4 linked regions of the Homo sapiens genome follow. The protein of the gene in region 1 purifies or fractionates together with the protein of each later gene. This does not show direct contact. Each region holds a gene or a part of one and is shown in the gene's direction. Other genes may lie near its edges.

Region 1 (4,223 bases):
AGGTAATTTAAATCAAAGAGTCAATACACATAATTTCTTTTCTTTTTAATTTTATTTTACTTTAAGTTCTGGGATACATGTGCTGAATGTGCAGGTTTGTTACATAGGTATACATGTGCCCTGGTGGTTTGCTGCACCTATCAACTCATCAGCTAGGTTTTAAGCCCTGCATGCATTAGATATTAGTCCTAATGCTCTTCCTTTCCTTTCCCCCTAATCCCTGACAGGCCCCTGTGTGTGATGTTCCCCCGCTATGTCCATGTGTTCTCATTTTTCAACTGCCAGTTATGAGTGAGAACATGTAGTGTTTGGTTTTCTGTTCCTGTGTTAGTTTGCTGAGGATGATGGTTTCCAGCTTCATCGATGTCCCCGCAAAGGACATGAACTTACTCTTTTTTTATGGCTGCACAATAAACATAATTTTATTTTTACTTCAGTTTTTCCTGGAGAATCAAAGAGAGGGACACCTCCTGTTTTTTATGAAACTAGTATAACTTCGCTACCTAACTCAGATAAAGAAGATATTAGAAATGAAAATTATGGGTTTATCTTACTTATGATCATAGATGTAATATGCTAAATAAAATAAAAAATTAGGTCACATTTAAACTGGGTTTTCCCAAGAATAAAGGATTATTGAAAATAAAAGAATCTCTTTTTTTTTTTTTTCTTTAAATGAGAAGGAGTCAGCATTCTCATATTTGGATGAGGGCCTTTGGTTTGGTGCTGATTCATCTCTGGCCTGGTATTTACCACAAGGGAAAGGATAGACCTTGACCTGAAAGTGGATGACTCCCATGGCCTTAGTGCACTTTTTGTTCACAGAAGTGAGCAACAAGGACCAATGGTTCTTTCTTATACATTAAATGCAGCAGGATGTATGACAGAGCATGCCTCCATTTGTGTACTAGTGTGGATATAGTTTATTTTTCAACTTTTGAGTTCAGAGGTACATGTGCAGGTTTGTTACATAGGTAAGCATGAGTCAAGGGGGTTTGTTGTACAGATTATTTCATCACCCAGGATTAATCCTAGTACCCATTATTTTTCTTAATCCTCTCCCTCCTCCCATCCTTTACCCTCTGATAGACCCCAGTGCCTGTTGTTCACCTCTATGTGTCCATGTGTTTTCATCATTTAGCTCCTACTTACAAATGTGAGCATGCAGTATTTGGATTTCTGTTCTTGGGTTAGTTTGCTAAGGATAATGGCCTTCAGCTCCATCTGTGTTCCTGCAAAGGACATGGTCTCATTCTTTTGTATGGCTGCATAGTATTCCATGGTGTATATGTAGTACCACATTTTATTTATCCAGTCTACCATGGATCATAACAAGTTTTATAAGGCAGAGTCTATTTTAACACCTGGCACCTATATAACAGATGAGGCAATTAAAGCCTAGAGATGTTAAGTAATTTTCCTGAGATCACACAGCTAGCAAGTGGCAGAGCCAGGATTTGAACACAGTTAATACTTAACTAATTATTTTTTGATGTTCACATCAAGTTCATAGCAGTGTAGTAGGTGCTCTGAGGAGTTAGAACAGAAATATTGGATAGATCTCATCTTCAATTTAGCTTATAGTTCATTAAGACCAGAAAAATAGGCTGGGCGCAGTGGCTCATGCTGGTAATCCCAGCACTTTGGGAGGCCGAGGTGGGTGGATCACCTGAGGTCAGGAGTTCCAGACCAGCCTGACTAATATGGTGAAACCCCATCTCTCCTAAAAATACAAAAATTAGCCATGCATGGTGGCGGGCGGCTGTAGTCCCAGCTACTGGGGAGACTGAGACAGGAGAACTGCTTGAACCCAGGAGGCGGAGGTTGCAGTGAGCCGAGATCGTGCCACTGCACTCCAGCCTGGGTAGCAAAGCAAGACTCTGTCTCAAAAAAAAAAAAAGAAAAAAAACCCAGAAAAATAAATTTACTGTAGGCATAGTGACCATGCCTTGAAAGCAAAAAGCAAGACTCTGTCTCAAAAAAAAAAAAAAAAAGAAAAACCCAGAAAAATAAATTTACTATAGGCATAGTGACCATACCTTGAAAGCAGCTGTGCTCAGTTTGGCGACAACATGAAGTGAACTGGTTGGTTTATTAGTTTTTAGGTAATCATAAAAAAGTACAAATTAGTATGATGCAAACTTTACTACATTTCCAATTCTGTATTACAGTATTGGGGAGAAAGTGGTTTGGAGCTAGATCTTTGCATCTGTCTGCCTAATGGAAATATAAATTAAGGGAATATAAAATTAAGTACTTATTAGGCATCAAATGAATGCCTGTTTTTTTTGTTTTTTGTTTTTTTTTTTTTTGGTGGTGGTTGTTGTTTGTTTTTAAGAGACTCCTGGTGTCTGTGAGCTTTTTAAGCAGTCATTTGAGATTTGGGCTCTTCAGCTGATCTTTTAAACTGTTCTTAGATTTACAAGTAGGGAATATTGAAGCATATGTTTGTATTTGATTTAAATGTTTAGTAACATCCTTTTAAATTAGTAAATTGATTAATGTTAACATTGTGTCAAATTTGATTACTTATAGCATCATTTTTCTTTCAAAGGAAGAAGCCATTGAAATGCCAAAATGCATCGGTTACTTTTATTTTTCGAAAGTTAGGTGTTATGATGCTCTCAACTGTAATTTTATTACATTTACTTTTATATTTCAAAATTGCATATGGGGTTTACCTTTTATTTAAAAAACTCTTGTGAATTTCACTTAGCTAGCATCTTTTCCACATGTGCAGCTAGTTTTTAGTTAATTTTGCTTTGTATAAAAGATTCCTGTGTTTATCATCAAACCATAGTTTCGGTTATCTTGGAATGAAAGCATAATAAGGAGTTCTCAATTTGTTAGTTTACGTAGTATGACAAATTTCTACTGTATTTAATGTTTCCATCCTCACAACAATGAGGTGAATATTTTACCAAAAATTTCATTAATCCTTTTATGATATATCAGTGTCACTGTGGTGCTGACTGTGGTAGGAATAATCAGTAAAAGCACAAGTAGACTCCTTTACTAAAACATAAAAATGATCAAGTTGATATTATCTTTCCATTCTACCATATGTGCTCAAACTGAATTCAGTAAATTTTAAATGGTAATGGCTAAGTAGTCCCACCTGCTTATTATGAGGTTTTTTTTAATACCTAAATGCTATATTAGGTAACCTATGTTAGGAAGGTTTCAATCTAACTTATTATTTCAGTTGTGAGCTTGTTGAGAAAGGGTATATTTTACTCCATTTTGTATTCCTGGCTTCTACCACAGTGCCTGGCATAAAGTCAGTGTTTAGTTAATAGATGATAAATGATTGAGTGAATGAATAAAATACAATTAAAGGTGAAATATAGCAAAACCTTTCTGAGATGATTTTTAAGAAAATTAAAGCATCTTTGAGTTCTTAAAAATATGAAGTTTTTAAAATTAACAATTGTACAGTGTCAGAGAAGTAAAATGATTTGCCGTTGATCATGTAACTGCTTGAAAGTTTATTACTAGCTGAATACTAGCCTCCTACCATTTGCTCTGGTGCTCAGTTCAGCTCACTTCCTGCCTTTTGTAGTTAAAATTTTATGAAATGAACATCACAGAAGGGGAATGAATTATTGAGTCTATAATGACTGTCCTTTAGTTTCAGAAAGGTCCGTGGGAAAAGAACCTATTATAGAGAACATTTATGGAATTCAATAATTTGAATTTATCATGGAAATAAGTAAAACTTCTAGATCAGGTTAAATTTTATTTCATCTTTATAGCATCATTTTAAGTACCACCAAGTACTTTTTAAGGAGTAAATAACAACCTAGAAAGCTTAAAATTCATTGAAATATTCAATAAGGAGTTTCCAGAAATCAAAAACCTTGATAAATTGGAAGCCTCACTTAGAAAACTTATATGCTAAAACTGTATAGGTTAATCCCCAGTTTGATATCACTCTTATGGTGAAGATACTGTTGATAAAATTTACATCTAATGAAAATTAGAAAAATTATAAAATTTGCTTTGTAAATTATAAATTTTTCATTGTATTTATGGCTCTGTTGATTATTTCTATAATAGTGACATTAACAAATGGCAAAACATTTTATGAAATATTTTGGGTAACTTAAAATTTAAGAAATAGTATTGTTTCTGACTATAATAATAGTTTTCATTTATTTAGAGTCTACTCTGCAACAGATACTGCACTTTGCATGTATTATCTTAATCATATGAATAATCCT
Region 2 (3,500 bases), on another chromosome or scaffold:
ATCTTTTCCACCTATGTAGCAGCTATTTTGGTCTAATAGCAAAGACAGAGTATTCTGTGTGAATTCTTGTCTTTTTCTTGCAAAGCCATTATAGTTTCTTATGGATATATATATATATATAATATATATTATATTATATATTATTTATATATAATTATTATTTATTATTATATATATAAATAATATATATATTTATATATAATTATATTATATATAATATATATAATTATATTATATATAATATATATAATTATATTATATATAATATATATAATTATATTATATATAATATATATAATTATATTATATATAATATATATAATTATATTATATATAATATATATAATTATATTATATATAATATATATAATTATATTATATATAATATATATAATTATATTATATAATATATATAATTATATTATATAATATATATAATATATAACCTATATATATATATAATATATATAATATATATTATATATATTATATATATAAAATATATAATATATATTATATATTTTATATATATAAAATATATAATATATATATATTTTTTTGCCAAGTATTATGAAACTAAATTGCCTTATGGACTAATTTGGGGAGGGGGACATATATGATAGAACTTTTTAAAGTATTCTTTCAGAATATCATGAACAACAGCTAGAATTTATTAGTTTGTAAGAGCTGGAATTTTACTTTAGATTTGGAAAAGCAGTTCACTTATAAGATACCTATCAAAAATCATAATAATGGAAAATTAAATTAAGTGAAAGTATACCAGCTTAATTGAGTTCACTAGGAACTATGCACCAACTCCTACAAAAGTGCACTTAAGAGCTATGAGGAGTTAAGTGATAGAGTTTTGTTTGTTTGTTTGGTTGTTTTTTTTTGAGACAGGGTTTCCACTCCATTGCCCAGGCTGGAGTGCAGTGACACGATCTCGATCTCCGCTCACTGCAACCTCCGCCTCCCAGGTTCAACTGATTCTTCTGCCTCAGCCTCCCAAGTAGCTGGGATTACAGGCGAGCGCCACCACACCTGGCTAATTTTTTGTATTTTTTTAGTAGAGACGGGGTTTTGCCACGTTGGCCAGGCTGGTCTTGAACTCCTGACCTCAGGTGATCTGCCCGCCTTGGCCTCCCAAAGTGCTGGGATTACAGGTGTGAGCTACCGCGCTTAGCCCAGTGATAGAGTTTTTGTTGCCAAAACAAAACATATGAACATATGATAGCTCTAATAAAAAATGCTGTTTCTTTGTTCTCATAATTTCAGTAGCTGAACTATGCTCCATTTCATCTGTAAAAGAGAAATAATCTGTACCTTCTTGAGTGGAGAGGGAGAAAGGAAATGAAAGCAAAATAACTATTTATAATTAGTGAAGAGAAAGCTTAGGAAAAAATGAGAAGATGCTTTAGAAATGTTAAAATAGCTTTAATAATAATACTTTATTATTTTAAAGAATGTAGGCAGTTGTGATTTTTTCCCCCAACATTTCATCAGAGAGCAGAAAAGGTGCTGCCAAATTGCAGACTTCCACATGAAAGATTTCACTATGCCAGGTGACCTGCACTAGAAGCAGGTTAATAACCCTGTTTTCATGGGCTGTCTTGCTTTCACAATGAATGGTCTCCTTTTGCAATGAATTTTTGAAGTTTTGTTTTTATTTATTCTATGTAATAATTTGGCTACATGTAATTATTTAGCTGCCTTTAGAGTCATGGACTTGGAGAATTGAAGATTTTCTGGTCCAATATTTCTCTAAGTATGTTCGTCATCTGTACTTAAAGAAGGGGCTCTGGGATCAATTAGGTCAGGAAACTGCTGAGTTAAAAAAGATTTTTAGTTTTGTGGGAGTTGGGGAGGTGAGAACATTCCTGAGACTTTAATATGCTAATATGAGTCTCTCACAGAGAAACAACATACAGTGTTTTACAAACTTACTTGACCACAAAACCTTTTTCTCGTGGTCTTGTTGTTACTCAGAACTCAAATCTTTTGAATTTACAAATGAACAGAAACGACAGCAAATGGCTTATTCAAAGCAATATAGCAGTTTATTTAAAGAACTGGACTTGAACTAAGGACTTCTACCATCATGTTTTATTTCTGTTGCCCCACCAATTCAGGAGAGTCTTTAAAAACTACATGATATTCTAAATTAGATCTGTAAAATGTACACAGAGGGGTTTGAAAAAATAAATAAAACTACTGATTGAATTATTTTTAGTATATTTTGAACTGGCACATTGACTTTGATGAAAAGAGGATTGAAAGAGCCAAATAATATTTGAAACCAAAATCAACAATTTTGTAATTGGTGAACATTGTTATTTTTACAAAAAATCAGCTATCTTTCAAATATGAAATCTGATTTCCTTTCAAATTATAAAAAGCTCAAACGACGCAGTAATGTATATACCAGAAAACTTTGCTACCTTTCTAGAACGGGACTGGAGAAAACGACTCTTTAGTGTCTGTTGTTTCAGACCACATCTCTATATAATAAACATATATCTTTTAAAAACTTTAGCTGGACTCTGCATGTGCCTGTTATCTCAGCTACTCAGAAGGCTGAGGCTAGAAAATCCCAGAAGTTCAAGACCAGCTTGGGCAACATAGTGAGTCCCATATCAAAAATAAATAAACAAAATTAAAATTTTACATAGATAGCATTATGGTAGACACAGTTCTTTAACTCTTTTTTTTTTTAACTCAACAATATGACATGCTTATCTTTCTACATTAGAACATGTAGAACTAATAAAACTTCTCTTAATGGCTTAATAATGTTATATGGTGCTATTATATTAATAATTTATTTAATCAGTTTCCCATTGATAGATGTTCAGATAGATGTAATTATTTTTTACCAATCAGTGCTGTGGTATCTTTTTGAGCCTTTGTGTATGTCTGTAGTAGAATTATTAATTGTGGAATTGCTGGGACAAAGAATATGCACATTTTAATTTTTCTAAGTATTGCCAAATTGCCTTAAAAATTTTTTTCTCCCACTGCCAGTATTGCAAAAAGAAACTTTAAAATGGTATATGTTTCACTGAACTTAAGACTTTATACTTTTGTAATGCATGACAGAGTATCTTTCTTTTTTAAAATTATAGAGATAATTTATAAAGCAATGATAATTTTAATCTCTCTTTTTCTCCCCCACCCTCTTCTGCTCTTTACAGAGCAAACTATTCATGGAAGGATTTAGAAGCCTAAAAGAAGGAGAACCAGTGGAATTCACATTTAAAAAATCTTCCAAAGGCCTTGAGTCAATACGGGTAACAGGACCTGGTGGGAGCCCCTGTTTAGGAAGTGAAAGAAGACCCAAAGGGAAGACACTACAGAAAAGAAAACCAAAGGGAGATAGGTAATCATTTTTACTTTGTTAATTTATCAGTTTATTGTGTTTGGAAAGGATTTCTGAAAATGTTTTCATCTTACTGCATTTCATATTGTCTAGCCAAAGGAAACCACCATCATGTAGAATATAT
Region 3 (3,500 bases), 8.5 Mb from region 1:
CTGGGCTTAAGACCACCCTGATCCACTGTGATTCCACATAATTTAATCTGCAAAGACTTTGTTTCCAAATAAGTTCACATTCTGAGTTTCCAGGTGGATGTGAATTTTGAGGGGACGCGATTCAACCTAGTACACAAGGTAATTAAATAGCAGATGGTCCTGGCACAGGATTTGCACCAGGTGTAATTTAAATAGATTATTCTTTGAGTGACATTACTCACATAAATCCTACAAACAGAATAGCTTGCATACTGCCATCATCTTGTTTTTATTTTGGTATTCGTACATTTATAATACTGGGTTGGAAATGTCTTATATTTGACTGTTCACAATGAAGGGTAAATTTAGGATAAAGACATTTGAAACTGGTTGTTTTACTTTCACACACTAGTGAAATTTATTCACTTGCTTTATTAAATGTGTATTGGGTGCCTACTATTATTACCAGTCACTATTCTAGGCACTGAATCTACAGCAATGAGGCAAACAAAGTCTCTGCTTTGCAGATATGAAAACATCTACACTGCCATGCAGTGGTAAGTGATGTGAAGTAAATAGTGATGGGAAGTGTTGTGCTAGTTGAGATGACATTTAAGCAGAGACCTGAATACAGTGAGATGATCAGCCGTGTATATATTTGGGAGTAGAGTATTCCAGGTAAAGAAGAGATTGCAATGGTATGGGCTAAGCATCAGAAAGCAATAAAGCTTAAAGAAGAACAGATATGGAAATAGCATGATTTGATTACATTTTTAAAAATCACCGTGGCTGTTGTGTGGAAAATTGACTGTTGAGAGAGCAAGTTGCAAAGGAGAGTGACCAGGCATAAGTTTAATTATGTTGGTCCAGGTGAGAGGTGTTGGTGATTTAGTCAAAGGTAGTAAGAATAGAAATGGTGAGAAGCGACTGGTTCTGGATATATTTTACATTTGGAACCACAGGGTGTATTGTGAGTTTTGAGGGAAAGACAAATAGTGGGAAAGAATCCTTAGAGTTTTAGGCCTGAGCAACCAGAACAATGGAAATTACATACAATAAGATGGAAAAGCTACAGGAGAAGCAGATTTGTGAGGAAAAATCAAAGAATTCTGTTTTGACAATGTCAAATAGATGTCAGGTTAGGTGGTTTGATGTATCAGCTTAGAGCTCAGGTTGGAGCTGGAGGTCGAAATTTAGATGTTGTCAGCCTTCATACGGCATTTCAAGTCATTAGCCGGCATTATGATTTTTCCAAATTTATAAATATATTGAATACTGTATATAATGTTCCCATTCAGTCTAGGCCCTGAGAACGTGTCAGTGATAGTAGACATTTAAAATAGAAATATAGAGCGTTAGATAATTTCTAGGTCTCTGTTAAATGGAACTTCAAGTATTACAGTAGTCTCACCCAGTTTAGCACTAATATGTTATTTGATTCTTTGATATTAATTTAGTCTTCTTAATTAGATTGTTCAAGCTCTTTGATAGTAAAAACTATGTTCTTTTTTTGATGTTACACATGGTGCTTATCACAATTCTGAGAATATTAAGTATCGTATCCAAAGAATATTTATTAATGATTAAGTGATAATTTTAGTTGTTCAAAGGCAGTAATATTTTTGTCAGGATGATCTTTGTCTTTAGCATGGATTGATTATACAGATATCTTATCTAAGGAGAATATTAACTAGTTCTATTCTCCAACTCTAATTTTAAAGACTATGATAGATTTTATTTTATTCACTTTCAATAGTGTCATTTTTATTTCATTCCCATACGTTTATTATATTTTTAAATTTGCAGCCAGATTCTACTGCAACTGAAAGAGCAATTGCCAGACTAGCAGTACATCCTCTTCTGAAGAAAAAGATAGATGTGCTAAAAGGTATGAATTAAATGACTTTTAAGCCATGTACTTAATGTATTTGTAGACTTTGGATAATGGCTATTCACTTATTTTAACTCTTGAGGTTCTATTATAAATATAAGTTTCTTTCAAATATTTACCAGTGTGGAAGGTGTCTGAAAATACAGAAAGTGTGATCTCTGAAGAAAAACCAAATCTGTATTGTTTAGTAAATTCTAATATGTGAACGTATAATACGTAATATATATCTTTTTATATATAATATATACAAGATAAAGTTGAATAGTTTTTTTAAAATATTGACATAACTCATTAGTTTTGGTTTCGCCACTTAGGAACATAATTTTATATATGTTTATTATAAAATATATCTATAAAATGAAATTTTTTTGTCACATGATACTGAATTTTATGTCTGAAAGCACAGTTTATAATAATGCATTATTATTATATAAATTAAAGTTGCCATTCCCTTTTATTTGTATTCTGTGATGTTTTTACTGTTCTTCATAACTCCAAGACATGAAGAAAACATTTTCTTTTCATTTTCACAATTTAAAATGAATACGTCTGAGCATATCTTATGTTTGGTTTTTAAGAAGTCGAAAGATTTCTTTGTGAATTCAGACCGAGTATATGTATTTAATATCAATTCCAACTGCCCTCTTAAATCTTTTCAAATAATTTTTTAAAATACTGTCCTAAAACAGTCATGTTTTATATGTTTCAGTGCTAAAATGAGTGATGCACTGTTTCTCTTGCAGCTGCTGTACAAGCCTTTAAAGAAGCAAGACAAAATGTTGCTGAAGTTGAGTCATCAAAGAATGCTTCAGAGGACAATCATTCTGAGAATACTTTGTATTCAAATGATAATGGAAGTAATTTACAGCGTGAAGCAACTGTCATCAGTGAGCAAAAAGTCAAAGAAACCAAAATATTGGCGAAGAAACCAATACATAATTCAAAGGAAAAAATAGCAAAGATGGAACATGGACCTAAAGCAGTGACTATTGCAAATTCTCCATCAAAGCCTTCAGAAAAGGATTCTGTAGTTTCCCTTGAGTCCCAGAAGACACCTGCTGACCCAAAACTGAAAACTCTAAGTCAAACCAAAAAAAACAAAGGATCTGATAGCTCACTCTCTGGTAACAGTGATGGCGGAGAAGAATTTTGTGAAGAGGAGAAGGAATATTTTGATGATAGCACAGAAGAAAGGTTTTACAAGCAGTCTTCCATGTCTGAAGATAGTGATAGCGGTGACGACTTCTTCATTGGGAAAGTCAGACGGACACGAAAGAAGGAAAGTAGTTGTCATTCTTCAGTTAAGGAACAAAAACCACTAGAAAAAGTGTTTCTTAAAGAAGATACAGGTGAAACTCATGGGGATACAAGAAATGACAAAATCAAGCCAAGTACAGAAACCAGAAAGTTAGAATCAGTGTTTTTCCACTCTTTATCTGGATCTAAAAGCTCTAGAAGGTAAGATTCTTTTTCTATTCTGAAATAATCATTAGTTCTTTTTTAAAAAGCTATAAATGTCTACTTGTCCATACATGAAGAGACTATAATTCTAGTTTGTACAACCCATCCTGTTTTTAGACATGGCCCTCTCCAAGGTTGTAGTGGGGTATTAGGTACAGATACACATATG
Region 4 (2,866 bases), on another chromosome or scaffold:
ATGCCCGGCCATTGACAGTTCTTTAGAGCAGTTGATACGGATCTTTCTTATGTAATTACAGCAGTTTGTACTGAGAAATAAGCAAGAATTGAGCTTTGGTAAGGAGGGTTCCGAAGTCAAGGAACATGAAATAATTGTGGAGGTGAGGTGAGAAGAGAGGGGGATCCTGAAAATTAACTGCTGGACTTAGAGATGATTAACAAGTGGCTCCCAGGAGTTATGCCAAATACTTGTTTTGTTTTGTTTTGTTTTGTTTTGAGTTGAAGTCTTGCTCCTGTCCCCAAGGCTGGAGTGCAATGGCGTGATCTCGGCTCACTGCAACCACCGCCTCCCGGGTTCAAGCAATTCTCCTGCCTCAGCCTCCCGGGTAGCTGGGGTTGGGTTACAGGCGCCTACCACCATGCCCGGCTAATTTTTGTATTTTTAGTAGAGACAGGGTTTTACCATGTTGGCCAGGCTGGTCTAGAACTCTTGACCTCAGGCGATCCACCTGCCTCAGCCTCCCAAAGTGCTGGGATTACAGACATGAACCACTGCGCCTGGCCTTTTTTTTTTTTTTTTTTTTTAAACTAGGCTTTATTGCTATTGCTTTTTTCCTTTGAACTTTATTTTGAAATACAGAGTTGAAAGAATAGTATTATGAACACTTAAACTTTTGACCTAGATTCACTAATTGTTACTATTTTGCTGTTATATATTTGCTTTCTCTTTTTTCTGTGTTGAAAAGAAGTTGCAGATATCCTGAATGATACTTTACCGCTAAGTACTTAGGAGATACATGCCAAAGAAAGTGGGATATTCGCCTATAGAACCACAGTGATCACATTAGAGAAATTCCACTGCCACAGTAATATCTAATATGGTGCATATTTATATCTCCACATTTGTCTCAGCGTCCTTCATTTTCAACTCAGGGCAGAATCCTGTTACTCCCTGCATTTAGTTGTCAAGTCTCTTTAGTCTCCTTTGATCTATAACCGTTCCTTTGCCCATATCCCCTTTTTTTTCCCTTCCATGGCCAGTTGTTTTATAGAATATCCTACAGTTTGGACTTGTTTGATTTCTCATGAATGGATTCAGGTTACATTTAAACATTTTGGTAAGAATAAGACATAGGTGACATTTTGATTACCTTTTAAGAGTAAAACAATTCACATGTCAAACTATTTGGATACTGTCTCAGTCCATTTGTGTGGGTATAAAAGATTACCCGACGCCGAGTCATTTATCAAAAAAAAAAAAAAAGTTTATTTGGCTCATGACTCTGCTGGCTGGAGGACTGGGCATCTGGTGAGTGCCTCAGGCTGCTTCCACTCATGGTACACGAAGTGAAGGGGTCCCTGCTTGTGAAGAGATCACATGGCTAAAGAGGAAGCAAGGAGGGGAGGAGGTGCCAGGCCGTTTTAAACAACCGTGTTCCTGTGCCCAGTTTCAAAATAGCCTTCAGCCAAGCTATTGAAGCAGCCTTTGTGAAACTGGACACACCAGCTACTTCAGATCCCTTCTGTGGTAAGGGCAGAGGCTGGAGTGCCCAGGGTTGTCAAACACACATGTACTGCCATTCCCACTGGGATCCAGTGGCAGACATCACTCATCAGCTCTTTCAGGAATGAATGCGAGAATAGGTCTCCCATCCCCCAGGGAGGGCATTAATCTGTTCATGAGGGGTCCACCCCCATGACCCATACATCTCCCATTAGGTCCCCACTTCCAGCATTGGGGATCAGATTTTAACATGAGGCTTGGGAGGGTCAAATGTCTAAACCGTAGGAGACCCAAACTCCTAGAGACAAAGGGAGAAGTTCACCAAAGTGGAACATAATGAAGAAAGGTTATTTAATGAAATCGGCATCTGCCAACACAAACTCATCTTGAGTAATAGGCATTCCTCACTTTGGAATATATGATTTAAGGACAAGGCATCCCTGCTTGAACCCCATGGGGTTTGTCTCTTGATATTTTTCCAGGAATAAAATGTTCTCTGCCTTTTAAGTGGCATATTTGCAGTTGGGGCTCATAGTGGCCTTCAGCAGTTACAAAGCTGGCCTTGGCCAAGTGGAATGAAAATTCCTCAGGGGCATGAGGATTGTTCTGATTTTATTGTCCTTGCAGGAATTTTACTGGCCTGTGGTTGGATCTGAAAGTTAATGATGAAGGAGCTATTGGAAAAGCAGACTAAAAGGTAGTGAGGGGCTGTTGAAGCGGTGTCAGGAGAGAGTTTAGTTAGTTTTCATGGCTTTAGGTAACTGAAGTTTAGTAGCCATGTGGTTTAAAACTGGAGGGTACTTGGCTGGGCACGGTGTCTCATGCCTGTAATCCCAGCACTTTGGGAGGCCAAGGCGGGCAGATCACCTGAGGTCAGGAGTTCGAGACCAGCCTGACCAACATGGAGAAACCCCGTCTTTACTAAAAATACAAAAATTAGCCGGGCGTGGTGGTGCATGCCTATAATCCCAGCTACTCAGGAGGATGAGGCAGGAGAATCACTTGAAGCTGGGAGGCAGAGGTTGCGGTAAGCCAAGATTTGCGCCATTGCACTCCAGCCTGGGCAACAAGAGCGAAACTCCATCTCGAACAAAACAAAAAAAACTGGAGGGTACTAGGCCGGGCACAGTGGCTCACGCCTATAATCCCAGCACTTTGGGAGGCCAAGGTGAGGGATTAACTGAGGTCAAGAGTTCAGGACCAGCCTGGCCAACATGGTGAAACCCCGTCTCTACTAAAAAAAAAAAAATCCAAAAATTAGCCAGGCGGGTGCCTGTAATCCCAGCTACTTGGGAGGCTGAGACAGAATTGCTTGAACCTGGGAGGCACAGGTCACAGTGAGCCAATATTGTGCCATTGCACGCCAGCCTGGGCAACAAGA

The links. The genes of interacting proteins can lie anywhere in the genome.
Region 2: the proteins of YTHDC2 (region 1) and LIN28B purify together in Homo sapiens (co-immunoprecipitation; one large-scale study listed by IntAct). This does not show direct contact.
Region 3: the proteins of YTHDC2 (region 1) and SRFBP1 purify together in Homo sapiens (co-immunoprecipitation; one large-scale study listed by IntAct). This does not show direct contact.
Region 4: the proteins of YTHDC2 (region 1) and RNF10 purify together in Homo sapiens (co-immunoprecipitation; one large-scale study listed by IntAct). This does not show direct contact.

Annotation. Positions count from the first base shown.
Region 1 is NC_000005.10:113,519,844-113,524,066, forward strand, and holds part of YTHDC2 (3'-5' RNA helicase YTHDC2), read left to right. Parts: intron 1-4,223. UniProt on the Homo sapiens protein: 3'-5' RNA helicase that plays a key role in the male and female germline by promoting transition from mitotic to meiotic divisions in stem cells.
Region 2 is NC_000006.12:105,023,107-105,026,606, forward strand, and holds part of LIN28B (protein lin-28 homolog B), read left to right. Parts: intron 1-3,191; coding exon 3,192-3,376; intron 3,377-3,500. UniProt on the Homo sapiens protein: Suppressor of microRNA (miRNA) biogenesis, including that of let-7 and possibly of miR107, miR-143 and miR-200c.
Region 3 is NC_000005.10:122,017,475-122,020,974, forward strand, and holds part of SRFBP1 (serum response factor-binding protein 1), read left to right. Parts: intron 1-1,785; coding exon 1,786-1,867; intron 1,868-2,613; coding exon 2,614-3,328; intron 3,329-3,500. UniProt on the Homo sapiens protein: May be involved in regulating transcriptional activation of cardiac genes during the aging process. May play a role in biosynthesis and/or processing of SLC2A4 in adipose cells.
Region 4 is NC_000012.12:120,572,356-120,575,221, forward strand, and holds part of RNF10 (E3 ubiquitin-protein ligase RNF10), read left to right. Parts: intron 1-2,866. UniProt on the Homo sapiens protein: E3 ubiquitin-protein ligase that catalyzes monoubiquitination of 40S ribosomal proteins RPS2/us5 and RPS3/us3 in response to ribosome stalling.